4 separate regions of the Homo sapiens genome follow, and all the other regions are reported to be linked to region 4. The links are microRNA targets in miRTarBase. Many come from high-throughput screens and were not tested one by one. Region 4 holds a microRNA gene; each other region holds the end of a gene's coding sequence.
The links. The annotated mature microRNA hsa-miR-1233-5p reads AGUGGGAGGCCAGGGCACGGCA and lies in region 4 at 2,555-2,576, shown strand. An mRNA with a match to its seed (bases 2 to 7 or 8) in the 3' UTR can be bound and repressed. Matches are read on the target gene's strand: a 7mer-m8 pairs with bases 2 to 8, a 7mer-A1 pairs with bases 2 to 7 and ends in A, and an 8mer does both.

Region 1 (7,113 bases), not on the chromosome of region 4:
GGCAGACTCAAGGGGCTGACGGCATCTACAAGGCGGCTACAGGGGAAATGCTCCTGAGAACATGCTTTCCTCAAAGTTCCCGAGGCCCCAGGGCATTGCTCACTGCCAGCTGCTCACGCCCCTCTGCTCTGTGTCCAGACTCTGGGTATCAGGCCCTGGTGTTGTCCTCAAGGAGTCTCCAGCATGGAGACCACTAGAGGAGTGCTGCAGCATGAAGTAGAGAGTCTGAGTTTGAATCCTGGTCCCACCATGGGTAACGGTGTGTCCTTGAGGGTAGTGACTTTACCTCTCTGCTCCCAGGTTCTCCCCTCTACAATGGGGCTGGTCCTGGTACTGACTTGCAGCCCGGCAGCCTTGTATGCTGCAGAAACCACTCCCCAGCATCCGTGTCCCATTCCCCAAAGGTCTATGGTGCACCTGCCTATGTGCCCAGTGCAGGCTGGCTGGAGGCTCTGCTCCAGGACTAGAGGCTCAGCCTGGATATGACCCAAGTCACTTCCACCGACAACTCCATGACTGTTGTCCTCAGAAAGAACACATCTGCCCCCAAAGCTCCACCATCAGGGCTGATGGCTCTCCAGGAAGGCCCCAAAGGGGTGCCACGGGCCACGGGCCCTGGGGATACCTGCAGGAGCCTCTTGGTCTCCAGCCTCCTCTGGCCTTGTCCCGCGACTGCCAGACGCGCGAATCAGAGCCCACCCTCCTCGCTCCCCAAGGCACAGCACCTCCTGCACCTCCCTGCACAGAGCTGACCTGGCCTCTTCCATTGCTCTGGACACAGGGAATGCTCTCTCCGATGTCACCTCAGCTGGCTCCTTGTTTCTCAAGCCTCGATTCCTCCATCCCTCCTCAGGCCTTCCCTGCCCACTTGGCCAGGTGGGCACCCTCCCATGCCACCAGTTTTCTTCAGGGCAAGACACCATCTATAGTCACTGTATCAGGTTTTAGCCTGGCCTGTTACTTTTTATTTCTGCTCAGAGCCTGTGTTTGCTCTTGAGCTGTGGCTGCTCTGGGGTCCAGGTGGGAAGTCTGAAGTCACCTCTGGATCTGCTCTGGGTGGAGGGTGCCTCCATCCCACCCAGGCCCACAGGCTGGCCTCGCCCTTGCTCTGCAGCAAGCCCATCCAGGTGCCCTGCTCAGAGCCACCAGCATTAATAGCTGATGGTTTAATACCCTCAGGAGCCAGCGCACTCAAGCAGCAATCAGAAGGCCCCATCACCGCTGCTGTGTAATTGCGCCCGATCACTCGCACAGCGAGCGCTGATTGCGGCTCAGAGATGGCTCAGCTTCCAGGCTGATGGGCTGGAGCCCTTGGAGGCCTAATGAGGGTAATTGAGGATGGGCTGATTGTGCCGGAAAAAAGCTGAAGGGGACTGAGCCATGAGAACAGGCTGCGTCACACCCTAAACGGGACCACATTTGCTAAATTTGTTTCCGACACAATTTCGTGGTGATTACACTGATTTCTCTTGAGTTACTGAGCCTGGCACAGAGCTTGTGCTTGCAGCCCCACTGTCAAGATGCGCCTGTTTGAGAGTGGGAGGTATTGTTGATGACTTATGGGCCACTGTCAGCCCTGGGAACGAGTTCATGGAGAGGCTGGTGGGAGACAGGTGGGAGCTTGGGGGCGGTGGGGAGGGCCTGGGGTCCCAAGGGCCTACGTTTGGGCGGGCTGCTGCTTACCACCATGTGGCTGGGACACATTGTGCAACCTCTGTGTGCCTCAATTCCTCAGCTGCAGGTGCAGCTGCCCCTAACCTCCCAGGGTTGCCGGGAAGTCCCAGTGAGTTCACTTACAGGCAGTGCTCAGACGGTCCAGGTTGGGGTCTGCCTGGAGGCGCAGCTGCAGAGCAGGTGCCCAGGGCCCTTGGGGATGTGTCACACCTGACCCTGCACCCACCCTCTGCGGCAGGAGCAGCCACCCCTGTTGAGCCATGGATGAAATGAGCCCAGGGACGGGGCCACTGACCAAAGCCATGCACTGGCAGAAGCTGCATCCACACCTCCATCATTAGTATCTGTACACATTTTCATGAGATGAAGCAGCATAGCCTGTCTCTGCTGGAAAGACCAACATTTCTCAAACCCGGTTCCTTGGCTGCGAGTCTGGGAAACACAATTCCAGCCTTGGCTACTGAAGGCAGGGGGCCCAGGACTGCAGCCTCAGCTCCCCCAGGCTGTCGCTCATGGGCCCCTCGGGGTCAGAATCTGATTTTAGTTAACAAGGCACCCAGGAATTCCTGCCTCACGGCATGGGCTGGAAGCCACTGCTCTGAGCTAGGGGTCACGGGAGAATCGCCTGGGAAGCATCTAAAAGTGACCACCGCTCAGACCCCTGAAGCTCCAAGGCTCCAGTGGGGGTCAGGCACTGGTGTTTTAGTCTCCGCCAAGGGCTCCAATGTGTCACCTGGGCTGAGCGCACCCAACTCACAGAGTGTGGCCATCTGTCCTGGGTGTGGCTGAGTCTCCCAGGGAGATATGCTTCCGTGTTTGGGATGTGGCTGCACTCCTGCGGCCGCCCCTGCTTCCCAGCAAGGAAAACCTGGAGCCAAGAGCTTTTAGCAAAAATGTTTAATCTCTCCTTAATGTGTGTGTTTATTTACAAGTACTAAATCTGAAGAACAGTAAAATAGGAAATAGCCGTATATGTACACATCTGAGGGCCGGGCCCACAGTCAGCGGTGCTGCTTCTGCAAAGAGCCCGGCTGAGGGTGCCCGCCCGGACCGTCCGAGGGATCGCTCTTCTTCTGGGAGGGGGTTCTGCGGTGTTAAAGGACAGCTAATTGTGGGCTTTGTCTTAAAAATATCTCTCTCTCTAAATATATCTATTCTAGCTGTGTAGCACCAACGTGAGCCACTGAATCCAGACAGGGAGAAAGCCAGGGCGGAGGCTCTCAGCAAGGCCGAGCCGAGATGGCACGCCGCTCCGGGCTCTCTCCCGGACTCGACGCTGCAGGTCGTGGGGCCCCCAGCCCCTCAGGCCAAGGGGCCAGTGGTCCTGGGGCTGGGGAGCACAGGGGAAGCTCGAGGTATATCAAGAGGCCAGGCTCCCAGGCCGAGGCGTGAGCTTTTCCAGCACTCCTGAGCCAGGCGCGGGGAGAGGGAGGACACGGAGCAGGGTAGGAGGTGCTGCAGGAAGCAAGTGGCGGCAGCAGCACGCCAGGTGGGTGCCAGTTTCACAGCACATGTGCCGCAGCCCTGGCTCCCTGCAGACACAGGGCCCATGGGAGCCGCTCACCGCTGCTGGGCACAGAACGGCCTCCAACTGCAGCTCCTACCAGGGCCTCCAGCCCCAGGCCAGAGCTCCCAGGTGCTGCACAGTTAGGAGCACAGTGGGAACCAGTGACAAGTAGGGACTGGGGCCTAACTCCACGACCTGGCAGAGGGAGGTACGGAGTAGCTCGGAGACTGCTGTCCCAGTAGACAGCACAGGTAGTCGGCTTGATCCTTGCGCATGTAAACAGATACTGCTAAAGTGCTTGCGCCTAGACACAGCCATGTGCTCTGTGGTGGCCACGCCCCAGCCACACGCCCATGTGGGAACTGCTTCATGAGGCCTGTGGTGCACCCCCTTCATCACCACTGCCGTCCCCACCACCCGCCCATGCTACTCACATGGACAAGGGCAGCCTGGCAGGGCAGAGCAGAGCACAAGGCCTAAGGAGAGTGGGGGTTGGAACTGGATTCTGAAGGTGATGCAGGAGCCCCTACCTAACCCGTGAGGAACTGGAAGAACCAGGGACTTCAACCTGAAGCCAGCATCCAGGGAAGACTTTGGGGGAAACTGAGGTTCCCACCCCACCATAGCCAGGAAACATCAGAAGGGAGGTGGAGGCGCACCCAGGAACAGGAATCCCAGCCAATGCTAGGGGCTACTGAAAAAAACAGCCCAGCCACTGTAATATGGACTGGCCTCAGCTCTGGCCCCCAAGACTGCCCAGGGAGTAAGCCCACCCCCTCAGTGGGCTGGGGGCAGGGGCTGGCCCAGGCCTGAGCTGGGTGTGGCAGCAGCAGAAGGCCCCAGCCCTGGCACAGTGCCCACGGGGCCAAGGAGCTCCCTGAGTCAGCAGTCACTGACTCCACACCGACCCGCGTTCAGGGAAGAGGCGGGTCTCTGTGGCGTCATCTGGCTCACGCTACTCAGCTGGGGCGGACTGCAAGACTGGCACACCCCATGGGGCCGAGTCCTCTCCTTGGGCCTGGCCAAGGACATGGGGCTGAGTCTGGCCACAGTTAGCTGTCCCTTAATGTCCATGGGATCTTCGGTACCATCAAAAAAGTGACCTTGAAAAGGGGATGGACCGCTTGTTTGCTTTTACAAGTGACTGATTAATTAAAAAACATAAAAAAGGGTCTAACAACCTCTAGTATTCAACACTTGCAGTTTTAAAAAGATCAACTCAGACTAAACGCTAGCACAATCATGCATGCCCCGTGGTGCCGCGGCACCCCAGAGGCTCTCAGGGTCAGCAGGAAGTCCTTTCCTTGTCATGTCAAACCAAAACAGCGGCCCGCAGGTCGGGGGGCACAGGCTTCAGGGCTGCTCCACTCCAGGGAGGCTCCGGCCACTTTCTCCACAACCATTTGGCATTGCTTTCCCACTGCCTTCATTTTCTTGTTCAAATCGTCTTTAAAATTCTTCTTCAGTTAACTGTACAGTACCCCACTGGGGCTGGAGCCTGAGGCTAGAGCCACATATATATATATGCATATATATACATGTACAGCTTTCTTTTAAGAATGCATTCTCTCTTGCTGAGGGCAAGGGTGGACACCGCTGGCCTCCAGTCCCTCTGGTCACTGCCCGTCACTCATGGCCCAGATAGATCCAGGCCACTGCGGGCCAGAGGAGCCCTGCCACAGACCTCAAGGCCCAAGCAGAGTGCAGCAGAATTTTTTCCCCTAAACACAAAAACAGTCCCCAGATGTCCCACTGCTCTGGAGGGGCCAGGACACTGCTGAGATGCCACACTGGAAGCCGCTGGGGCAGGGACAGAGAGAGTGGAGAGAGAGGAGTGCTCAGGGGCCGCCCTCAGGGGCTCCAGGGTGGGGAGCTCAGCCTACCCTTGAAGACAGCTGCCAGGGCAGCCTGTGTAGGACGCGGAGGGGAATAAATAACGGGAACGTGCTCTCTGCGACCCGGGGCCCCTGGCCCAGTGGCTCCCAGAGGCACAGCCCTGAGGACGGAGAGGGGCTGCCCGGTCCGTCTGGAAGCCACCCAGGAGTCTGAGCAGCCTGGCCCACAGCCCCTCCATAGGAGGGAGCAGAGCCTCTCTGGGGCGAGGTGGATGTGGTGCTCCGGCCTCGGCCGCGCAGAGCACGCGGTGAATCTGAGGATGGCAGCGGTGCAGCGGGCATGGGTGCTGGAGGTGGGAGTCGGTGGCAACGGGCCCAGACCGACTTGAGCTCCTCTTGCCCGGCTACGGGCTTTTTGCCTCTTTCTCCAGCTGCCAACCGGGCCCCGGGACCCTCAGACTCTGCCGCCTGGGGGCAGCTTGGAAAGCTGGGAATGCTGACACCCCCAGCCTCTTGTCCTGGTCTCAAGGGGACAGCCCAAGCTGGCTACCCCTCCCCCTGGAGGGCCCTGGCCTCACCCCTCAGCCCCTCAGAGGTCAGCCCTTCTCCCATGAAGGCCACTGGGCAGCTCTTGCCAGGCAATGAAGGTCCTTGGCCAGCCTGAGCACCCAGTGCTGTCCCGGCCCCTGAGCAAGCAGCTGTGTGCGCAGCTGTGGTGTGGCAGGTACCATCACCTCCACACAGGAAGAGCCGGGACCCGACCGGGTGAGGCAGGGGAGGGAGGGCCGGGCAGTCGCTGCACTGCGGCGGCCCGAGCACCACCGGACACTCCACACGCATGCGGTGAGGGCTGTCCCGGTCCCTGCTCAGCTGTCCTCACGCTGCATCATGCTGGATGATCACAGCTGGGGCTCAGCTGCTCAGGGCCATCGTGTCCACCACCTGCTCCAGCTTGCTCCGCAGCCGCTGCCGCCGCGCCTGCTCATCCTTCTCCAGGGCTGCCAGGATCTGCAGGGCCAGGAGAACTGTCAGCATGCCGGGCCACCAGCCTCCATGCACTCAGCAGGCCCAGGGCAGATGCCTCCAGAGTAGGTGCCAGAGGTTCAACCCCATCTACCCCTGGCCAAAGGACCTTGGTTGTGAGCCTGGACCCTCCAGGACCCCAATATGGAGAATGAGCCCTGCCCCTGTCATCATCCTACTCTCACCCCCTAAAACAGCAGGCTCTGATCCCTTGGCTGCCTGGCCATGCTGCTGACATGTCCCCACCCAGTCCTCACACCCTGGGGTTTCTGTGCCCCTTTAAAGCAGAGCTCCCCAGAGAGCCTCAGCTCCCCTTTCCCTGGTGAGCCCCAGGACCCCAGGCTTTTGTCCCCACTCCCCACCCTAATACATGCAGTCTCTGGCTGCTCCTCTGCTCCCCTGGGGCACCTGCCTGAGGACAGCCCTCTGCCTCCTGTCTGCCTCCTGTGGCACCCTGGGGAAGGTTCCTTGCCTCTGCTGCACCTGCCCTGGCCTCCCCAGGGTGGCTCTGGTTCACTCCCGTGGCCTTCTTAGCCCTCAGAGCCTTGGCACAGGCCGAGACTGTCCTGCCCTCTGGCCCCGTGCTCCCATCCTGTGCGGCCCAGGAGCCAGTTCTCCTTCCTGGATACCTCCTGGACCCCGTCCCCAGGTCCATGTACGTGGCCTCACTCCAAGTCAGCAGAAAAGATACTGAAAGGAAAGCTCTGCCAAGAGCCTATGCCCAGCCCTGGAGATGCTGGCCCAGACTAGAAAACCCTGAAATGAGCCCCTCAGGGAAGTTGCTCACCACCCACACACCCTCTGCCTCAGGAAGAAGCTGCCATCCCATCTTCCCCACCCCTGACCCCACATGGCTGCACACAGTGACTCCACCACGGCCTTCTCTGCTCGGCCTGGCAGGCTCCCTCCTGGCCCCAAGGAACCAGGTGGCCAGAGGGTGCAGAGGAGTGAAGGTGGTCAGTGGCAGCCCAGAGATTCAGGGAGGAGTGGCAGGGCGGGGCAGAGCAGGTGACTCTGGCAGGGGCCGGCAAGCCCTCCTAGCCCAGCCTGTGGGCTCCCACGGTGTTCACCTCA
Region 2 (7,093 bases), not on the chromosome of region 4:
ACAAATAAGACTCTTGCCTGTCAACAAGATGTTCCGATGTTGGAGGAGGGCTCCAAAGCTGGGGGCAGGGAACCCATAGGCCTGGTATTGCTTTCTCTTGGTTCTGCAATGGGAAAACCCAGGGTGAATGTGGCCTGCCTGGTTCCACTTAGATAGGTGAGCAGAAAAGCTCAGGTTGGTCAAAGTCCCTTCCAGACAGTGTTTGCCCAGGGCACTGTGAGCTCTTCAGACTTCCCTGGCACTCACCCTGTCTGCCTCCTGGGGTTTCAGGTGTACCAGCTGGACACAGGGCATTACCTCTGCAGGAACAAGTACTATGGCCGTGGGCTCTCCATTGAAGGCTTCCGCAATGCCCTCTATCAATATCTGCACAATGGCCTGGACCTGCGACGTGACCTGTTTGAGCCTATCCTGAGCAAACTGCGGGGCCTGAAAGCTGTGCTGGAGCGGCAGGCCTCTTACCGCTTCTACTCCAGTTCCCTGCTTGTCATCTATGATGGCAAGGAGTGCCGGGCTGAGTCCTGCCTGGACCGCCGGTCTGAGATGCGTCTCAAGCACCTGGACATGGTGCTCCCTGAGGTGGCGTCATCCTGTGGCCCCAGCACCAGCCCCAGCAACACCAGCCCCGAGGCGGGTCCCTCCTCTCAGCCCAAGGTGGATGTCCGCATGATTGACTTTGCACACAGCACATTCAAGGGCTTCCGGGATGACCCCACCGTGCATGATGGGCCAGACAGAGGCTACGTGTTTGGCCTGGAGAACCTCATCAGCATCATGGAACAGATGCGGGACGAGAACCAGTAGGCCCTGTTCTGGGCCCCCAGAACCCCTTCCTCTCCACTGCAGGCAGGGACCATTGTTCTGAACTTGCCGTGAGGACACACAGACTTGCTTTTAAAGGGTTATATTTCTCTTTGGTGTAAACTAAAAGAAATGTTTTTAGCTGTAGCCTGGAATCCATATATATAAAGTGAAGGAGGGCAGACCACACGCCCTCTCAGCCAGGCTCCTCAGCTTTGTGGCTCTGACTGGTGTGTCCAGGCTGCCTTAGGAAGGAAGAGGTGCCCCTGGTGGGCTTGGCAGCAGGGACAGGGTGCCCTTGGACATTGGTTTCTCTTGTCTAGATCTTTGAGATCTGTGGCTGCAGGGCCCTGCTGATTGTAAGGTAAAGCCCTGGGCTGGTGCAGGGCCCCTCCACGCCCACTCTTCCCTTGTTCCCCAGAAGTAGAGGGCTCTGGGTGCCCATTTCTTGGGGGCTTTCCAGTCTTATGCTGTGGGTGTCAGCTAGCTCTTTAATAGGTGCCCTCAGGGCACCACAGGGCTGACTGCACAAAGCTGGACCCATCCTTCGGTCTGACCTTAGCATGGGGCTAGATTAATGAAGCTGGGCTGAGGCCAACTTATGGCAGAGGGCGGCGCCTGGGTTCCCCAGGCACCTGTTGGCACGTGACAGGTTGGCACCTGTCCTATTCCTGAAACAGCCTCTCTCACCAAGTTCCCTTGCCTAAGAAGGCCACTCCCTCCCACCCCACTGAAGTGGGGGATAGTCGGTGTCCTAGCAGGCCTCAGGGCCTCTGGTGGCTCTGGCCCAGACAGTATTTGCAGTTCTTGTGCTATGGGTGGGAGTCTTCTTCCTCAAGTTTCGGCAGCTGTGCTGCTGCTGGATGGGCTGCTCCTCCCAGGGCTCAAGGGCTGTGGTCCGCTCAGGGTCTCATTTCCCCAGGCCAAGTTCAAGGCAGCAGCCCTTTGTGAGGCGCTCTTGGCCCTGGGCCTGGAGGGAGAACTTTAAGCTTTTTTGCTCACAGGGACGTGGTATGGGCCCTGGGTGCAGGTGCCCACATTCTGCTAATGAGAGCTTTGTCTGATCAGTCCTGGGTCCATCAGTTTGTCCATGTGTCCGGCTGCCAGCCCGTCCCTTGGGATCCTTCCCCTGGGGTGTAGCCTTGTTCATTAGTATATACTCATTCCTTCATGCTTTCCTCAGCAGAACACTTCCACTTCTGAGGTGAGCTTTTGCCCCATGCCCTTCCTCCACAGGTGTTGCCTTTTTATAAAGACCTGATAGCAGAATAAATTGGTGTTTCCCTGTTGACCCAGCACCATTTCTGTGGGCCTAGAATATGGCCCTCAACCCTTAGAGTGGGGCAGTGAGGGCTTGAGGAGTGACCCTTCCTTTCTCATGGTTTTAGTCATTTTGGCTGCCAGCCCTTAATGGCACAGATCTGCTGCTTCTAACAGATGGCCAGGAGGTGACACCGATTTCAGCCATTGCCAAGGTTAGCACCCTCTCCTTTGAGCCTAGGGCCACACTGTTCATTGTCACTTTAGGCAAGTGCCTGTTTGGCTTTAAAGGTAAGCCTGCCAGCTGTGAGAAGCCTTGGTAACTGATGGACTCATTTCCTGGTCCTTAAAGATGCAGCCTCTTAAGGGCTCCTTGATGGATGCCATCTCTCCTAGCCCCCAGCCCTGGTGCCACTGGTGGGCAGGTTCCCATTCTTTGGGGCTGGGAGGGACAGCTTGCCTGTTTCTGGTCACAAATTACAGTCTTCTCTCCTGTACCATTCTGTGGCTTCAGCCATGGGGGCAGTAGCCCTTCATTAGTGTAGATAGTCATTCCCTGGTAGGGTGGAGGGTAAGACATAGGGTCTGGAACTGTTTGGGACCTTTTGGGGATGTCCTGTGCCTCCCAGATTCCTCGATTCTGGGAGGAGAGGCTGCCGCATTCTGCTGCTCCTCACAGCGAGCAAAGCTGCACCCACTTACATTCAGTATTTTCCTGGCACTACAAAGAGTGGGAAGGCCTGGGATTTGCTGCTGCTCCCTTAGAGCAGGGCCCCTCTTTTCAGCACTTTGGACACCTGGAGACCCAGCCCTGTTATTTAATGGTAGTGGGCAAGTGTGTGTGCATACTGTCTGCCACTGCTTTCTCCCTGCCCCATGCCAGAGAGCCCTGTCCCTGCCAGGCCCAGCCTTCTTAGCCCCAACTTGGGAACAAAGTGCAACATGGGATCATGGGTTGGGGTGCTCAGGTGAGCCCTCTCTATAGTGCTTCCCTGGGCCAAGCTGACACCAGCCCCTGAGGGTGGGGTGGGACGGGTGGTGCTTAAAAGAGGAAGGGGACCAGTGTAGCAACTTGCCAGGGACCCCACCCCTCCCTCTCTGGGCCTGTGCAGTGAGCATGGGGATTCCCATCAAGGGGCCTGGCACCTGTGCTAGTTACGTAGCCGCTGCTCACGCGCTCACTCCTGACCACATGCACGTTCCCTAGATGCAGACTGCTTTGAACTTTAAAGCTGTACAATTTGGTTATGTTTGTGCTGACTTAAAATATATTTTAATGAGGAAAAAATAATGGAGAACCCTGGGAAGGACCTGGTTCTTTTGCTTCTCGGGGAACTGTAAGCCCTCGCGTTCTGGGAATCGCTCTCTGCTGCTCTTTCCTGGAAGCTAAGCCTGTCTCCACCGCCCGAGGCCTGCGCCGGTGGCTCCCGCCGCAGTTGCGTTTGCTTTGGACCTTGCGTGCGGGGGAGGGGGTGCTCGGTCCGAGCCCGCTCCTTTCTGTACACCTAGCGCTGCCCGCCCCGCTTGTGTCTGAGGTCGTGTATGTCAAAAATAAAGCCGCTAGAAACGGAGGCGAGTCTGTCTTTGTGAAAATCCCGTGGCCCGGGAGCCTTCCCTGGTCACCCTCGGGGCGAGGCCGGGGCCGTGGGGCGGGGCCGGCGGCTGCTGGACCGCGGCGAAGCAGGGAACAAGGCCTCGCCCTTGGCGCCAGTTCCGCCTTTGGATCCGCCAATGGCCAGCTGACCCGCGGGTCCCGGCCCGGGTCTCCATGGCAGCCCGGCGTACTCGGGCGCTCATTGGCTACGTCTGTCGCAGCGCTGCGCTCCAACGTTCCGACGCCGGCGGCCGTGCCACGTACGCGGCAGCCGATTGGCCCGCGGTGGTCGCGTCACTGCCCGCGCCGGGTCCGGCCTGAGTTCGGGGCCAGCAGCCGTCTACCCGGTGTCGCGTTCTGTGTTGTGGCGGCCCTGGATCCGGCGTCAGGGCGACCGGGCGGACGAGGTGGAGCCAGAGTCTGTCAGGCGGGTTGGTGAAGGGCGCGGGGCCGGGCACGGCGTTGGGAGTGCGCGGCAGGGACCGGCCAGGCGGGCTGCAGGCACCTCAGAGCCCGGGACACCCCCTCAACGTCCGCAGGCGCGATGAAGGCACTGATCTTAGTGGGGGGCTATGGGACGCGGCTACGGCCGCTGACGCTGAGCACCCCGAAGCCACTGGTGGACTTCTGCAATAAGCCCATCTTGCTGCACCAAGTGGAGGCGCTAGCCGCGGTAAGACCCTGGGTCGGGATCAGAGTCGCGTTCGGATCTGGCGGGACTAGGGATGGCCAGCGACTAGGGGTCAGGGGCTCCCGTACCTTCTGACTGAGCCCGCCCGTCGGCCTGCGTTCTGACAGGCAGGCGTGGACCACGTGATCCTGGCCGTGAGCTACATGTCGCAGGTGCTGGAGAAGGAAATGAAGGCACAGGAGCAGAGGGTGAGGCACAGACTCTTGGCCCTTATTCTCGGTCCCCGCCCAACTTCCCATCCTGGTAGAACCTGACTGGGGGGGCCTCTTCCTTCCAGCTGGGAATCCGAATCTCCATGTCCCATGAAGAGGAGCCTTTGGGGACAGGTCAGTAGAGGCAGAAAGGTCCCTTGGGGGAGGGTTTAAGGCCAGGAAAAGGGTAAGACCCAGCCTGGAGTGGGCCTGCTGAGCCTGAATCCAGGGACTCAGACCTCCAGCAAGGTGGTGACCTGTCCCCTTCCCCCAGCTGGGCCCCTGGCGCTGGCCCGTGACCTACTCTCTGAGACTGCAGACCCTTTCTTCGTCCTCAACAGTGACGTGATCTGCGATTTCCCCTTCCAAGCCATGGTGCAGTTCCACCGGCACCATGGCCAGGAGGGCTCCATCCTGGTAAGGCGCCAGGTCTTCTCTCTCTTGACACTTTCACCCTCCATGCCCAGCCTCCCATGCCCCCTAGCCTTCATCTGCCTTCGGATGTTATGGATACAGAGCTGTGCAGTATGTATCTTTAAGCACTTGGGGCAGAGTCTCTTGAGATCTGGAACGGCATGTGTATCAAGGCTTAGGAACACTGGACTAGGTCCGAGGTCCCCTTCCTTGCATTCAGGTGACCAAGGTGGAGGAACCCTCCAAGTACGGTGTGGTGGTGTGTGAGGCTGACACAGGCCGCATTCACCGGTTCGTGGAGAAGCCACAGGTGTTTGTGTCCAATAAGATCAACGCAGGCATGTACATCCTGAGCCCTGCAGTGCTGCAGCGCATCCAGGTGTGTAGGAGACAGCTGTTGGTGGGCTGGGGTGGGGCAGGCCATCACCGCCATGACCCTGCTCACAAGCTGCCCACTCCCACAGCTGCAGCCTACGTCCATTGAGAAGGAGGTCTTCCCCATTATGGCCAAGGAGGGGCAGCTATATGCCATGGAGTTACAGGGTGAGGCAGGGAGGCCACAGGGTGGGGGTGGTCTGTGGCTGGGCTGAGGCCCCTGATGCATCCCTCCCTACAGGCTTCTGGATGGACATTGGGCAGCCCAAGGACTTCCTCACTGGCATGTGCCTCTTCCTGCAGTCACTGAGGCAGAAGCAGCCTGAGCGGCTGTGCTCAGGCCCTGGCATTGTGGGCAACGTGCTGGTGGTGAGGCCCTTGCCCAGCCCATCATTAACCCCCTCAGTCTTGGGAGACAAGTGGCCCACTTGTATTTTTCCCACCGCTCTCAGGACCCAAGTGCCCGCATCGGCCAGAACTGCAGCATTGGCCCCAATGTGAGCCTGGGACCTGGCGTGGTGGTCGAAGATGGTGTGTGTATCCGGCGGTGCACGGTGCTGCGGGATGCCCGGATCCGTTCCCATTCCTGGCTTGAGTCCTGCATTGTGGGCTGGCGCTGCCGCGTGGGTCAGTGGGTAAGCCTGTGGGCTGGGCTGGGTGGGGAGAGGGGCGGGGAGTGTGCCTGCCTCCCTGACAAGGCCTATCCTCTCCTGGAGGTACGCATGGAGAACGTGACAGTGCTGGGTGAGGACGTCATAGTTAATGATGAGCTCTACCTCAACGGAGCCAGCGTGCTGCCCCACAAGTCTATTGGCGAGTCAGTGCCAGAGCCTCGTATCATCATGTGAGGGGATGCAGTGGGGCTGGCCGAGCCCCGGTTTTCCCATCAGCAAGGGGAGTGCTGGCCTGACACATCAGAAGACCCTGGACTTGTCATTATTTGTCTGGGGGGCACTGGGTGAAGCTGAAGCTGTTGGACACCTGCCTTCTCATGTGGACATCATCTGGCAGGATCCCTGCTGGGCACACCCCACAAACCCCACTCCCTCAAGAAGGGCCAGGGCCAGGGCTGTATGGAATAATAATTTAATGCTCACTGTGGCCCTGACTGAAAGTCAAGCTCAGGCACAATTAGGGCCATGGCTGGGCTCCCACCAATGAGGATACAGGCAGGCAAGGAGGTTGGATGTGGTGGTGTGGGATACAGGAGAAGGGCAAAGGGAGCTCATAAATAGGGCCCAGCCTGGCTCTGGGTTCAAAGGTGGAGGTTCCAGGATGGCACAGGCTGTGAGGGCTAGGCAGCTGAGGAGGTAGTACTCGTATTGGCTCCCTTCTCCCAGTCCTCTACAGACACGATGGTGGTTTTGCAGAAGAAGCAGTCCTTGTTGTTCATCAGGTGCTGGTTGATACAGGCTCTACAACAGGGGAGGGGATGAGGACTGCCCTGCATGTACCTACTGCTCTCCCCACCACCAAGCTGTGGGGCCCACTTACTTGCAGGACTTGTGGCCACAGGGCTGGAACACAGCAGAGATGGGGTGGGCATAGCAGATGGGGCAGAGGTCCTCCTCACTGGTGGGCTGCAGGGAGGAGAGTGAAGGGTGGGCTGGAGTTGGATGCCTGGCTATGTGGATGTCCGTTGTGCCTGTGTAGGAGTGCACACATATTCAAGTGGCATGGACCTGTGCACCGTGTTCCCACTCACCAGGGAGGCAGCTGCTGCCTGGGCAGATGCAGAGGTCAGGTGCGCCAGCATCTGTTCCACTT
Region 3 (7,113 bases), not on the chromosome of region 4:
CCGCGGTCCCGGCGCTCGGCGGCGCTCGGGGGCGCTCGGCGGGGATCGGCTGGGCTCGCGCTCGGCGGCGGCGACGGCGGCGGCGGCGGCGGCGGCAGCTAGGGAGCTTCTGTCCAAGGTTCTGCAGGCACCGCAGCCCCGCCCCCCGCTCGGCCGCCCGCACCTTCGCCGCCGCCGCCGCGCTCCCGCTCCCGCTCCCGCTTCCGGCGCGCGCCTCAGCGCCCTCCCTCGCGGGGCGCGCGCGCCGTCCACGCTCCGGCCTGGTCTCGCCGGGGAGTCGCGGCCGTTGGTGTCCTCAGCTCGAGCCGCGCACGGTGCGGGTAGGACGCGGCAACGAGCGGGAGGCACCTCTACGCGCCGGGCCCCATCTAGGAGCCGGACTCCGCGGCTGCGGCGGGACACGCGGCGTCGGCCCGCCCCGCCCCTCGGGGCCGCCCCTCCCGCACAGCTCGCCGCCCGCTCCGCGCCGCCGCCCAACAGCAGCCCGGCCGCCGGAGAGTCCTCGGCGCCCGCGCAACCCAACTCTGCCGACGCGGGGCGGGCGCCGAGCAGGGCGGAGCCGAGGGCCGACCCCGCCCGCGTCCCGCCCAGACACGTGCTGCCTTTGTTCCCGCCGCGGCGCCCGCAGCTGCCGGCCGCGGGGGCACTCTCGGCCGAGTCCCTGCCCTGGCAGCGCGCGGCCCGCCCTCTCTGAGGCTGCCGCCCTGGCCTGGTGAGGAGCCCTCCGCCGAGGCCAGGGTCCGGAGCTCCCTCCTTCCACCTGACATCCCCGTCCCTGTGGAAAGCAGCCAGGGAGCGCGGGGAAGAAGGCCCTGGGCGGGGAGAGGCGACGCCTTTACTGAGGCCTCCCGAGTGCCACGCGCACCTCGAGTGGACAGTCCAATCGGTTCTGGCCACCCCTCCGGGGCCTCCGTTCCCTCATCATGGGTAGATGACCGCGGCCGAAGTGGGCCTCAGAGATCCAAGCCAGAGAAGCGTGGCCCGTAGCCAAGCCTGAGCCCGTCACAAATATGACCTCTAAGTTCCCACTCGCCCTCTTATTTGTCATATTAAAGCTGAAGCAACTGCCCCTCCGGCCAGCTTTCTGACCCTCTTAAACGTTTTCAATTCTAAGTATGTATAATTTGAGAACTTGATGCTAGCGAAATTGAGTAAAATTCTGTTTCTGAAAGCTGTTCCTGTCAGATGTGAATCCAGATCCTTCACAAAGGCTGTTGTTCATTTACTATTTTACCTTGTTTCTGGAGATCGAGTCAAAACTGACCACAAACCTGGGAAACAGGAAACTTAAGCCCTGTCTTAATCCAGATTATCTCTGGACCTAGAGATGAGGGAGTGGCTCTCCAGAGGAGAGGATGCCACCCAGTTACCTGACCACTCCAGCCGACTAGGCTTTCACCAGCCCTGTCAACTGTCCTAGGGGGAACAGAAAGGGAATCTGGCATCATTCAAAATGGTGCAATCAAGGCAGAAAGTGCTGGGTTTTGTTTATGTGCCACTCAGATTTCTGTCAATAGGAATTCCAGGCTTTAGGAACCTTGGGGGGCAAGGCATACAGTGGAAAATGCATTGCTCTGTACCCAGAGGGCTACTTTGTCCACAGCCTTTCAGAACATCCACAACAGCTGTTATGGGAACTCAGAAGAGGAAGGCAGGCCCCCAGCTCAGTGCGCCCCTCCCTGTGAATGTTCCTCAGTGTACAAGCCTACCTGCTCTTCAAATGGAGCTGTCCTCAACCCTCCTGCATGTAACAGTAAGAAGCCAGAAGAGGCCGACGCAGTGGCTCATGCTTGTAATCCCAGTATTTTGGGAGGCCGAGGCGGGTGGATCACCTGAGGTCAGGAGTTCGAGACCAGCCTAGCCAACATGGTGAAACCCCGTCTCTACTAAAAATACAAAAAAAATTAGCCAGGCGTGGTGGCAGGCACCTGTAATCTCAGCTACTCAGGAGGCTGAGGCAGGAGAATCGCTTGAACCTGGGAGACAGAGGTTGCAGTGGGCCGAGATTGCACCATTGCACTCCAGCCTGGGCAACAAGAGCGAAACTCCATCTCAAAAAAAAAAAAAAAAAAAAAAAAAAAGCCAGAAGAAACGATTTGCTTCGAGACCCTGACCAAGTGTCCCTTTTCCTTCTCAAAGGAAAGCCGAACCCCAGCCTCTTTTCCTCAGCCCTTACTTGGAGCCTCTAGCTCCTGAGTTGGCTCTGTGCCCCCCTTCAGATTCTAGTGTTGAGCCAAGGTTAAATGTTTTCCACTTCCCAAAATATGTCCAAATTTTGAAGCCTATAATCCACCCCGGCCAGGCGTGATGGCCACACTGTGTCCAGCAGTTTCAGAGGCCAAGGCGGGCGGATCACCTGAGGTCAGGAGTTTGAGACCAGCCTGGCCAACATGGTGAAACCCGTCTCTACTAAAAAAATTAGCTGGGCGTGGTGGCGGGTGCCTATAATCCCAGCTACTCGGGAGGCTGAGGCAGGAGAATAGCTTGAACCCGGGAGGCAGAGGTTGCAGTGAGCTGAGATTGTGCCACTGCATTCCAGCCTGGGTGACAGAGTGACACTTCGGCTAAAAAAAGAAAAATCCACCCCCTAGAAAAACCTGGGCCCACTCTGTTACCTTTAACTCTCAATCTCAATTCTAGCTATTCCAATTCACGGGGAGGCGGACCAAGCTCACCCCACTACCCTGCTTCCCACTCTGCAGCAGCATGCCTCTGCATGGGCCTTTTCAAGCCAGGCCATACCCTGTGTCTTCTCACCTTTGTCCAGCCAGCCTTTCCCTAGCACCTTCAAACAGAGCTCTCGGCAGAACACCAGCCTCCTCACACTTGCCCAAGGCAAAGTCACAGTTGCAGCACAGCAGGAATGGGATGGCACTGGCAGCCCACTTGCTGCTGCGACTAAGGGAGGGGTCTCCAGGAGCTCCTATCACCCAGGCCATGCCTGTTATGCTGGTTTTCAGACACCACAGAGCTCCTCTTTTCATTCAACCCACCACCACCTCCCCACCCCCAGTTCCTATCACTGCTCCAACTGGAAGCAAGGAAGAAAGGACAGTCAACTGCCAGAAATGGCAGAACCAAGGACCCAGAAGGCAGACCCAGTTGAATGAGGCAGAGCTGTTTTCTTCCTAGCTGCCTTCATCATAGAACTGCAGGGAAGATTTCCAAATCCCACCCCCATCAATCAGCCTACTTAGCCTATTGCCTATCTCTAGCTGCCTGAAGGGCCAGCCTGCTTGTTAGCTTCCCTGCTGGGCTGGGCTGCCCGTGGACTGCCGGAGAGTCCACTCTTCCTGCATGCCCCACTTCCCATAGCATCCCGAGGGAGGGAGGTCAAGGCGGGGGCCAGCTACAGCTTCCAAGAAGGGTTCCAAATAGAGCAGGCCTGAGCCCTTACTCCTGAGGAAGTCGGCTTTGTTCTTTCAGGGATCACAGAGCAGCATCTAGTGGCCCTTCTGAGCAGCACAGATTACATAACTAGCACACAGCAGGGGACCAGAGCCTCTGCTCCCAACTCCAGTAGAGTCTCATTAACACACAAGAAAGTCCTGGCACCATGAAGGCTGGAGCCCAGAAGGGAGGTGAGGGAGCCGGGCCCAGGCCAGCCCACCGGCCAGCTGACCTTCCCAGCTGTGCCTGGACTCAGGTCATGAGAGGCCTGGGAGAGGAGGCAGTGACACAACTGCTGGTCCTGGAGGTCTAGAGCTGCGCTGTCCAGATAGAAGCCACATAGGTAACTTTATATTTTCTAGCAGCCACATTACACAAGTAAAAGGGAAACAGGTGAATTTTAATAATATATTTTATTTAACCCAATACCCAAAATATTTCAACACATATATAAAAAAGTTATTGACATATTTTACACTCCTTTTCTTTTGTTATCATACTAAGCCTTCGAAGTCTGGTTTGTGTTTACACTTGCAGTGTATCACAGCTCGAACCAGCCACGTTGCAAGGGCCTGACAGCTGCACATGGCTAGCGGCTACATATTGGACAGCACGGGTCTAGAGGGCATCATCTGACCAAGACCCGCAAAGGGAACTGAGAAAAGGGCTACTGCCTGAGCATCTCAGGACTGCCCTAAGTTTGAGAAAACATCTCCCCTCTACTCCAAAACTAGATCTCTTTGGAGTACTTTTTAAAGTCCTTTATAGAAGCAAAGCTCTTTCTGCAAGTGAAATACAGAGACACAATACTAAAACTGACAATGGCTGAACTGCTCAGACTGAAGAGGATTTAGCAGGTCCCCCAGTGGTCCCAGAGCCCCCCGCCCCCGCCAGGGTGTGAGGCAATATGAAAATCGCTGCCTTTGAAGATTCCAAAAGGAAACGAAACCACAACTGCATGTCAGGACTCTCCAGACACCTGCACGTCTATGACTTACTAAGCTTCACATCACAATCACCTGCCAAGGAAGCAGCATCCTCACTGAGTAGAAGAGAAAGTAGGCTCAGAGGATCTACTGCCCAAACTTACATGTGCTCACTGGACCATGCTGCCCTGGAAGAAGACACCTGAACTCATTTCCAACCTCAGAACTCACACACCAACTTTCTTGCCCCCAAAGCCCTCCAAGTTTGGACCCCAAATTTACCTTAAGGACTCCCATTACACAAATGAGATAACAGCTTTGGCCAGATGAGAGCTAGACTAGTGTGGGGCCACACAGAGCTGTCTGGACTTGCTTGGAAGCCCTCCAGCACTCAAGAAAAAGACACCTTTTGAAAAAAAAAAAAATTATTTTTATTGGAACTCATCTGAACATCAGATATACCTGGTGTTGGTTAGCAAGAACCGTTTGTACATTTGATACTGATGGTGCCAAAACCAAAACAGTGACTAGACATGATGGGGAAAGATGTTGAGAACAAAAACCTGATTTTGGAGAGGAAAATAAAAGCCAGTCAGATTCAGTGAGGATGCAAAACCTGGTACAACAAAATCCTTTTACAAAATATAAATTTATTATGAAAACCTGGAAGGATAATCCAAGGAAGGTAAAGAAAGAGAAAAGGAGGCCAGCAGAAGAAGGCAGGAAGGAGAGGAAAAGAGAAAAAGACAAAGAGGAGATGAGAGAAGAAAATACAGTTCAGCACAACAGAAGTGCAGAAGCTCACCTACCCAAATGGCATTAAAGCCTCGCTGTGTAATCGTGTCAGAAAACAAAGCATACTGACACATAGTGCTCTACTTCCCATCCACTTGAGTTCTAAGAGGTAAATTAAAAAGCTCCCTGGGAAGGGGACATGAGGTTGCTCAAAAACCCAACAAAGAAAATTAAAAAAAAAAGAGAGAGAGAAACCACACCCCACAGTCTCATTTCCGATGTTCATTGTTTAAAAAAGGAATAAATCCATCTGAAAGTAGGAGAGGAGGAGTGGGAGAGGGAGAGAAGCTCATGGCTTTCACAGACAGCCTGACTCCCCTGGAGGGGAGAGGAGGAAGGCAGAGAGACATGATGGTCTCCTGGTTGAGAGGGGAAAGAGAAGGGACAGAGAGGAAAGAAGAGAGGAGAGGAATGCAGGAGAGGAGAAGAGGGGCAATTAAAACACTGACGACTAATCTAGTTTACTGTGTTTAAAAAAAAAAAAAAAGCCACATGCATAGCAGGCCCCTTGGGGGCTAAGGGCCCACACTGCTCCCTGTGTGGCCGTGGTAGACACTAGCTCCTGGCCTCATCCCCATTCCTTCACAGGTCAGAGTGGAGCTATGCAGGCGCTGCTGCTGCTGCTGCTGTTGTTGCTGCAGTGGTGGTGGTGGTGGCGGCGGCGGCAGGACCTTCGGCTACTCTGCTGGAGCCAATGTGGGGAGGGAAGGGCAGACAGGCCGTATGGTAGGGGAAAGAACACCAAAATGCCTCATTTCAAATAAAAAAGAAAACAGCAGTCTATACACAGTTGTTTGTTTTGGTTCAGTACAAACAGAATAAAAAGTCATTGCTTTTGATGGTCAGCAAACACCCAATTCTGAGGAGGAGGAGAGGTGATGCCCAGCAGGTGGATTAGGACCCCCAGTGGTTGGCGGGGTGCCTGGCTTTGCGGCCCTCTCCCAGGAGGCAGAGAGCACAGCTTTAGGTAGTGTAAGCCTTTTTCCTTTTATTTAGAATAATCTTTTTTTTTTTCTTTTTCTTTTTTTTTAAGCAATTTCCCCACTCCCAAGTTGGGCCAGTAAAGATTACATGAAAACTGGCACACCTATTGGCTGGAATACAGATGCACCAAATGAGGATTTAAAAACTTTCCGAGCGAAAAGTAGAACAAAAAGAAAAAAGAATCTCCTAGCATTTTCCCCCAAGGTTTCACTCTCCCGCCACACACACTCTCCAAAGGACCGCTACAGATCCAACTCTGCAAGAGAAGACAGAGCAGTGTCAATCAGGAAGCCATGAGGACACCAGGAGGAGGTTTTCAGTCTCGACACGCAGAAGACAGAGCTGCCCAGCCCTGGGGTCCTGAAGCCAGCACTCACCTATGTCAGTTTCTTGGCTTTGTTGTAGAGGGAATCCACTACTTTGCTCATGTTCTGAATTGTTTCCAGAGCAGCTTCGTAAGTTTTATCTACTGGGGGTTCATCGAAAATAATCAGGACACCCTCCCCCTGGTCCAAAATCCCTGCAAGAAACACAAGGGCAACCCAGGTAAAAGATGAGGTTAGACACAAAAGTGTTTGTGAAGCAGCCCACTCCCTAGTTGACTCACTGTGTCCAGAAAAGAAGGGAAATAGAATTCATCTCCCTATTCCATGTACACATGCTTATTACACATTCTCATCACAGGGAAGAGGGGCCAGGACCCCAGGGTGAACCATCGGGGGAAACAAATAGAACATCTTCTTTGAAAATAAACTTCTTCAACCATCTCATCACCACCACCAGCCCCCTTGCCTGTGTGACTGTTACTTACCATGAAATTTCTTGTCAAGAATCATCTGTGATAATTTCCTTTCCACGTCGGCCTAAAATCAAAGCACATGATTAAAGGGACCAGTATCCACTAGTCAGAGATCACCCTGACACAGTAGCTTTGTTGGAGGGGTCTTAGGCCAAATGGACTGAAAACAAAATAGCAACAATGCAACTCCTACTCTAGTCCACACTGCCCATTCCCCAC
Region 4 (7,113 bases):
GTAGAGAGAGGAAACGTGTGTGTGTGTGTGTGTGTGTGTACATAGTATGATAATATACATAAAACATGTCTGCAAGTGTTCGTAAACAACTCAGGAGAGAGCAGCAGGGTGGCTGGGAGATACTTCCCTTTGATACCTTCCGAGTTTTGGACTATGTGAATGTATCATCTTTTCAAAAAGTGAACAAAAGATTAATTTTCCCCTTCCTAACCGTGCCCCCACCCCCAGCAGAAAAATGGGCTTAGAGAATCTGATAGACCTGGGTGTTCAAATCCTAGCTCTGCCTAAGTGATCTTAGGCAAGCACTTAACCTCAAACACTCCATGTTTTTTCATCTACCCAAGAGAGGGCATCATAGTAACTGTCTCCTCTGGTGGTTGCGAGGATTAAATGGGATTGCTAGCAAGGTACCTGCTGAAGCACTCCACAAAGGTTCAAACAGTGGGAGTAATAACAATAGCAATATTATCTGATCTCTCTCCTTGTCCCTTCCAACTTCACTGAGTTTTTTTCAAAACCAGACCACGGGCTTGGAAATGCCTTGATCTTTACTGACCGAGTTGTATATTGAGCCTAGCCCTAGCCCTTTTAAGGGGCACTGTGTGGAATGGCCCAGGCTCCCCAGATCGAAACTTCTCACTCTTCACCATCCAGTTCTCGAGCCGCAGTAAAGCACTTCTCAAGCGGCAGTTAGAGCAGTCCATACGGGAGCAGATACTGCTGAAAGGACACGTGACACAGGTGAGGTTTTGCAGAGGGAGGGATGTGGAAGGAAGATGACCCCAGGTGGCCAGGAGCAGGTGAGGACCAGTGACGGCCCTTCCTAACTTGTGTGGCCATTCTTGCAGTTGAAGGAGTCGCTTAAAGAAGTCCAGCTGGAGAGAGATCAATATGCTGAACAAATAAAAGGAGAGAGGGCCCAGTGGCAGCAGAGGATGAGGAAAATGTCGCAGGAGGTGAGATCTGACCCTTCAGCCTCCCGCCCCACCCCCCCCCCACCAACAACTTAAGATAGGTCACTGGATCTTTCTGGGCCTCTTTAAAATGGGAATAGTGCAGCCAGAGGTGGTCCTGGGTCTGGGCTTTGTGGAGGTGGGGGCAGAGAGGGAGATGGGAGCCTGTCCAGCCACCAGCCCCTCTCTCCAGGGCCCTTTCCCCCTGTGCTTTGGGCAGGTTTGCACATTGAAGGAGGAGAAGAAGCATGATACGCATCGGGTAGAGGAGCTGGAGAGGAGCTTGTCCAGACTCAAAAACCAGATGGGTAAGATGGGGCTGGCATGACCTGGGAGCAGGACTGGCATCAGAGGGCTGTGGGGGTGGCTTAGAGTGCCCCAGGGAGGTGGGTGGATGGCAGGGCTTTGAGGCAGAGGGAAAGAGGTCTGTGCCAGGAGACAAGTCTTGTCATCTCCCTGAGCCTCAGTGTCCCCATGAGCAAAGAGGGCCCGTTGTCAGCCACCCGCAGTGCTCTCTATCTGAAAGTGGTTTGGAAGACTGGCTACCATCCGGGTGCGAGGGATCGTTAGCAGTGAAGCCAAGTTTGGGAGCCTGAGAGGAGCTGTGCGCCAACAGGAGGGTGTTTTGTTGTTTTTTCTGTTTTGATTTTTGTTTTGAGAATCCAGAGGCCCTTATGATCTGCTTCCTTTCTCAGCTGAGCCACTGCCCCCGGATGCCCCAGCAGTGTCCTCTGAGGTGGAGCTGCAAGACCTGAGGAAGGAGCTGGAGAGAGTGGCAGGAGAGCTCCAGGCTCAGGTGGAAAACAATCAGTGCATCAGTCTCCTGAACCGTGGGCAAAAGGAGAGGCTTCGCGAGCAGGAGGAGAGGCTTCAGGAGCAGCAGGAGAGGCTTCGGGAACGGGAGAAGAGGCTTCAGCAGCTGGCCGAGCCACAGAGCGACTTGGAGGAGCTGGTGGGTTGCCCCACCTGGGGAGCCTGCCCTCCTCCCTAGCCCTCCAGGCCTTTGTTTCCCCACCTGTAAAATGGGGCAGTGTAGCCCTCACATGAAATATTACTTCCAAAGGCACCTGTGAGCCAGAGCTTTGCTCTGGTGGCTGTGGGAGAGAGGAGAGTATTTTTCTAACTTGGCTCCACCCTTCCCGGTGCCATGGGAGGCAGACACCAAGTTCTGGGGTCTCCAGCTGCAGTGGGTGGCTGCTGATTGCTTCTCTCTGTCCAGAAGCACGAGAACAAGAGCGCACTGCAGTTGGAGCAGCAAGTAAAGGAGCTGCAGGAGAAGCTGGGCCAGGTGATGGAGACGCTCACCTCGGCCGAGAAGGAGCCAGAGGCAGCAGTCCCAGCCTCAGGGACTGGGGGCGAGTCTGTGAGTGGGGAGACCCTCCGGGCCCTGCAGGAAGTCATGGAGAAGCTGGAGGGGAGTGAGTCCTAGCATGGGCCAAGAAGGGCAGGGCTGGGGCAGGTCGCTGCTGAGATGTGACCCCATTATTTTGGCTCCAGAGCGGCCTTATGGACCTCCTGGAGGAGAAGGCGGACCTGAGGGAGCATGTGGAGAAACTGGAACTTGGATTCATCCAGTACCGGAGAGAGAGATGCCATCAGTGAGTGGGAGGCCAGGGCACGGCAGGGGGAGCTGCAGGGCTATGGGAGGGGCCCCAGCGTCTGAGCCCTGTCCTCCCGCAGGAAAGTACATCGCCTTCTAACAGAGCCAGGGGACAGTGCCAAAGATGCGTCACCGGGAGGAGGCCATCATCAGGCTGGCCCAGGACAAGGAGGAGAGGAAGGTAGGGTGTGCAACATCCCTGTGGGGGTGGGGGTGGGGTGGGGGTGTGGGTGGGGTGGGCATGAGGGTGGGCGCCAGCAGCGGCCTGACAGCTGAGCACCCGTCCCTTCAGGTGAAGCTGCTGGAGCTGCAGGAGATGGTGTTGCGGCTTGTGGCAGCTACAGCGAGGGGCACGGCAAATTCCTGGCCGCTGCCCGGAACCCTGCTGCTGAACCCAGTCCAGGAGCCCCAGCCCCCCAGGAGCTCGGGGCTGCCGACAAGCATGGTGGTGAGTAGAGCCCCCAGGCGGGGTGAGCAGGCAGGAGCGGGGGGCGGCTAGCACTCCACTCAGATCCCCGCCTCCCTCTCTCCAAAGATCTTTGTGAGGCGAGCCTCACCAACAGCGTGGAGCCTGCACAAGGAGAAGCCAGGGAGGGTTCTTCCCAGGACAACCCTACTGCACAGCCAGTCGTGCAGCTCCTTGGTGAGATGCAGGACCACCAGGAGCACCCAGGCTTGGGCAGCAACTGCTGTGTGCCATGCTTTTGCTGGGCTTGGCTGCCGAGAAGAAGGAGATAAACACCACCATCATCAAAGAGCTGCTCAAGAAATTTTTAAAAACGAAACAAAGTTATGGGGTTAATCTCCTACACAATTCATTTACTTCATTTGAATGTTAGAGCTACTCATGATTATTTGTGTTTCTAATTTATAGTTTAAGTTTATTTGTAAAAAGTTAAAAGAGAGTGGGTCTCTGTGGCTCTCACTGATGTTCACTCTGGCATCCTTCAGCATTTTTCTTTTTTCATTTCATAATTGTAGGTCATTAGCATGCATATCGAGTTTGCCCTTACGTGGTGGGAGTTCAAACACACAAAGACCCACTCTTTGCACAAAACTGTTCTCGCTGGTTTGGAATAGGCTCCCGTGCTTTTCTAATGTTATTGCAGCATGGATGTCCATTACAGAATTCAGATAAAATTTGCTAATGTTCTGCTATGATGTTTGATCTCATCTTAATCACAGTGAGCTCTTCTATAGCTCAATATGCGGTTTGCCCTCAAGTGTGCACTGTTTATTACTTTGTAATATGCCACTGTGAGTACTGACATTTAGAGCTGTTTAAAGGCCGAGAACTGGAAACAGCCTTTCCTCCATTTTCTGTGTATTGGTGATGGGAGTGATAACCTTTTGGGGGAGCTTTCTAAATCTCACAGAAGAGGAAAGTGGCCTGCTCTGGCAGGTATGTGCAGGATACAGTGTGTTTCATCTGTTCCGGTGCCAAGAATGAGCAGTGTACTGTGGCAGTTCCCTTTGGATTTGTATGTGCTCTGGGCTCATGAAGATATTGCATCGTGAGCTGCAGCAGTTGCACTCTTTTTCAGTGACCTAAAAAGGGCTTATTTCCGAGGAATGAAAGGCTGCCATCATTGGCTGTGGGTGTGAAAAACCTTTCCTAGCTTAGAGCATTTGTATCTACAATACATTTTAAAGTCAGAGTTCGTGTTCCCTGTTTTAATCACATGACTACCTGTCCCAGTACACGAAAGGGCGCTGGTTGGCATTCTTCTTAATGTATTTAGTGAAGATCATAAGAAATCCTTTAAGAGTTTAAATGTCTCTGAAACAGGCATACAGGCTCTAGTCAAGAATGAATTAGAGTGAAGGAAAGCTGTGTGACACCTGGCATTCCTCTCTGTTCATGGAGCTTCTTTGAGGCTTGAAGTTTGATTTTACTATCTAGACCTCTCTGGCTAATACCTATTCTTCAACCACCTCGGTTACTCTGACATAGGAATTTACTTCTTTTCCTTGAGTGGAAAACACTTTAGAAAGTAATAACAAACATTATTATAAACTAATATATGTGAGAGTACTTAGTTGAAACAAAAAGGAATTTTAGTAGACAGTATTATATTATCTTTGAAAATCAAGGAGAAGTTTATGCAACTTAAAATGTTTACACACTGTGGTGCAATCTACTGTTTGTGAATGTCTGTATTATCAGGAAACATGTCTATACGATCGCAGAGTTGTATTTCCTCACAAACTTCTTTACGAAGAGTGAAATACGTTTTTGTACCTCTCATTTTCAGTCAGGGACATACTTTGTGCAATATTTCTGTGATTGTGCCTATGCATGATGAATGAATGCATTTCAATCATACATTGCCTAAATCATAACTTGATGATGCTTGGGAAAGAATCAACAGTTAAAACTTCATGAAGTTCTAATGTCTGTGTTCCAAAACACATCACATTATTAGGTTGTAGGGAGATATGTAGGTGTGCTCCCTGGGGTGGGGAGTTTTCTAGTTACTAGACCATCTCCATTTTTAGCACTTGGCAGCCTCATGATCCTTTTATAAATGTGAGATTAACAGGAGAGCAGCAATACGATTTTGCCAATGGAATAACAGATTTGCCGGCATTCACTGAAAGAGGGCAGATATTGGGTCCTTGTAACTTCAACTGACTCTTCCAAATTGTATGAATTTATCAATGTATTACACAAATCCAGTTTCAGAATGATAAAAAATGTTAGACCAAATAATGCGGCTAATTAACAGTCGTATGATTTCTAGCCCATGGGTTTAAAACTGTATCTTAAAGAGTCATTTTAAAATAATATAAATATTAAAAAATGTAACTGCTATCTTAATGTTCTGAAATAAAACATTTTAAAATATAAATCCTGTAGTTTAAAAGGAAGAAATGGTGGGAAGGAAAAGTAGAGAAAGAAATGCCAATTCCAGGCCAAAGCGTTATTTGCCAAGTTTTCTTAGAATGAATTTTACCAATGTATGAGTTCTTGTTAACAGAATGTGTAACGGAAATACTGAAAGACTTTTGCTTAAAGTGGCATTATTGACTGCTGATGTGATGCTACTGTAATGCAATAAATTTTTAAATTGTTGCAAAGTGCTGTTTTTGCCTTAAAATTTTATTTTGCGTGTCTTGAAAACTATAGTATTAAAAGTATTGATATTGTGCAAATACTGGGCATGCTTGGCATGAGATAATCTGTTTCATTGTTACAAAAATGTAGTATAACTATGCAAGTGTTTATTGAAAGAACACAACATAAAAAAGGTATGGGATTAAAAAAGTTTTGGGGTGAAAAAGTTATCGGATAAAAATGTAAAAAAGTTGTGGCAAAAAGTAGAAAAAAGTTTTCTGAAAAGTTATCATGGAGCACGGTGGCTCAAGCCTGTAATCCCAGCACTTTGGGAGGCCGAGGTGGGCAGATCACCTGAGGTCAGGAGTTCGAGACCAGCCTGGCCAACAGAGTGAAACTCCGTCTCTACTAAAAATACAAAAATTAGCTGGGTGTGGTGGTGGGTGCCTGTAATTCCAGCTACTCAGGAGGCCGAGGCAGGAGAATTGCTTGAACCTGGGAGGTGGAGGTTGCAATGAGTCAAGAGTGCCACTGCACTCCAGCCTGGGTGACAAAAGCAAAAACTCCGTCTCAAAAAAGAAAAAAAAAAGTAAAGGAGTAAAGAATGGCTACTCCAAAGACAAAGCAGCGGCATCAGCTGCTCAACTGATTATACTTAGTTACTTCTTGATTATATGCTAAAAAGAAAAGTGGGGTACAATGATCTTCCAACCAGGAGTTTCAACATGTGGTCTCTGGGCAAGATGAAACAGCAGACAGTTGGCTCTGAGTAACAGAAAAGATAGAAAAGAGAAAGGAGAAAAGGGGAGAAAAGCATTGTCTGTGGCAGGGTACATAGCTCCGGGAGGCCAGAGAAAGACCCACCCATTGCAGCGACGCTGAATCAAAAGTTCAGGCACCTGCTTTTCAGTAATGAAGGGAGCTCTTCCAACAGTCCCATCAGCTCTCATCTTTCCCACTTTAGGGAGAAAAATGCTCCCACATCTGGTGATCCTGTACATGCCTAATCCTGTCACCCACAGCCATCAGCAAACAGTGCAAGGCAGATTAATCCAAAGAGAATAGCAGATAACATCCCATAATTCCAAATCCATTTTTAACCAAGAGGGACTTTACTGAGAGGGACCTCTAACCTGTAACCCCCTGAATCTTAGGAAGGGCTCTAACCTTCCTAAGTTGGGCCTCTAACCCAAGTTTGGTCAAGTGTCCTTGCCTTTTATTAAGGAGGCCTTTAACTCTGTCTTAGTAGGGACTCTAACCCTCCTAAGTTGGGCCTCTAACCCAATTCCATCCTTTACCCACGTTAAATGTACCCCTCCTCTTACTCAAAGTCGGCCAATTGGTATTGCTGTTTTCTTTGGGTCAGAGGTTTCCTCAATATTGTCCCTTCGTGGTTCAACCAGAAGACATTACCAGAAAGGGATCCTGATCCAGACCCCAAGAGAGGGCTTTTGGATCTCACCCAAGCAAGAATTCAGGGTGAGTCCATAGACTAAAGTGAA

Region 1: miRTarBase lists PLXNA1 as a target of hsa-miR-1233-5p. Seed matches in the 3' UTR shown: 7mer-m8 at 5,370-5,376 and 7mer-A1 at 3,536-3,542.
Region 2: the mRNA of IP6K1 is a reported target of hsa-miR-1233-5p. Seed matches in the 3' UTR shown: 7mer-m8 at 1,521-1,527.
Region 3: the mRNA of PSMD11 is a reported target of hsa-miR-1233-5p. Seed matches in the 3' UTR shown: 7mer-m8 at 5,382-5,388.

The regions. Positions count from the first base shown.
Region 1 is chr3:127,032,833-127,039,945 of GRCh38, reverse strand. It overlaps PLXNA1 (plexin A1), which reads right to left. Exons shown (of 32, transcript NM_032242.4): 31 at 7,110-7,113; 32 at 2,557-6,024. The coding sequence ends at 5,929. Among named protein-coding and RNA genes, the nearest start is that of PLXNA1, 53 kb to the right of the region's middle.
Region 2 is chr3:49,720,833-49,727,925 of GRCh38, reverse strand. It overlaps IP6K1 (inositol hexakisphosphate kinase 1), which reads left to right. Exons shown (of 6, transcript NM_153273.4): 6 at 271-3,632. The coding sequence ends at 804. It overlaps RNF123 (ring finger protein 123), which reads right to left. Exons shown (of 39, transcript NM_022064.5): 37 at 7,032-7,093; 38 at 6,821-6,906; 39 at 6,397-6,741. The coding sequence ends at 6,621. It overlaps GMPPB (GDP-mannose pyrophosphorylase B), which reads left to right and starts at 3,975. Exons shown (of 9, transcript NM_021971.4): 1 at 3,975-4,328; 2 at 4,454-4,534; 3 at 4,624-4,672; 4 at 4,812-4,954; 5 at 5,172-5,330; 6 at 5,416-5,494; 7 at 5,568-5,695; 8 at 5,779-5,961; 9 at 6,043-7,093. The coding sequence starts at 4,200. The coding sequence ends at 6,174. RefSeq lists silencers at 3,482-3,931, 6,706-6,883 and an enhancer at 4,572-4,671.
Region 3 is chr17:32,479,991-32,487,103 of GRCh38, reverse strand. PSMD11 (proteasome 26S subunit, non-ATPase 11) reads right to left here. Exons shown (of 14, transcript NM_002815.4): 12 at 6,907-6,958; 13 at 6,473-6,615; 14 at 3,785-6,351. The coding sequence ends at 6,473. It overlaps CDK5R1 (cyclin dependent kinase 5 regulatory subunit 1), which reads right to left and starts at 111. Exons shown (of 2, transcript NM_003885.3): 1 at 1-111. RefSeq lists silencers at 1-111, 222-751 and an enhancer at 824-1,325.
Region 4 is chr15:34,377,589-34,384,701 of GRCh38, reverse strand. It overlaps MIR1233-1 (microRNA 1233-1), which reads left to right and starts at 2,552; the gene lies at 2,552-2,633. GOLGA8A (golgin A8 family member A) reads left to right here. Exons shown (of 25, transcript NM_181077.5): 17 at 655-741; 18 at 849-956; 19 at 1,174-1,261; 20 at 1,649-1,905; 21 at 2,173-2,316; 22 at 2,451-2,551; 23 at 2,634-2,734; 24 at 2,846-3,001; 25 at 3,089-5,634. The coding sequence ends at 3,291.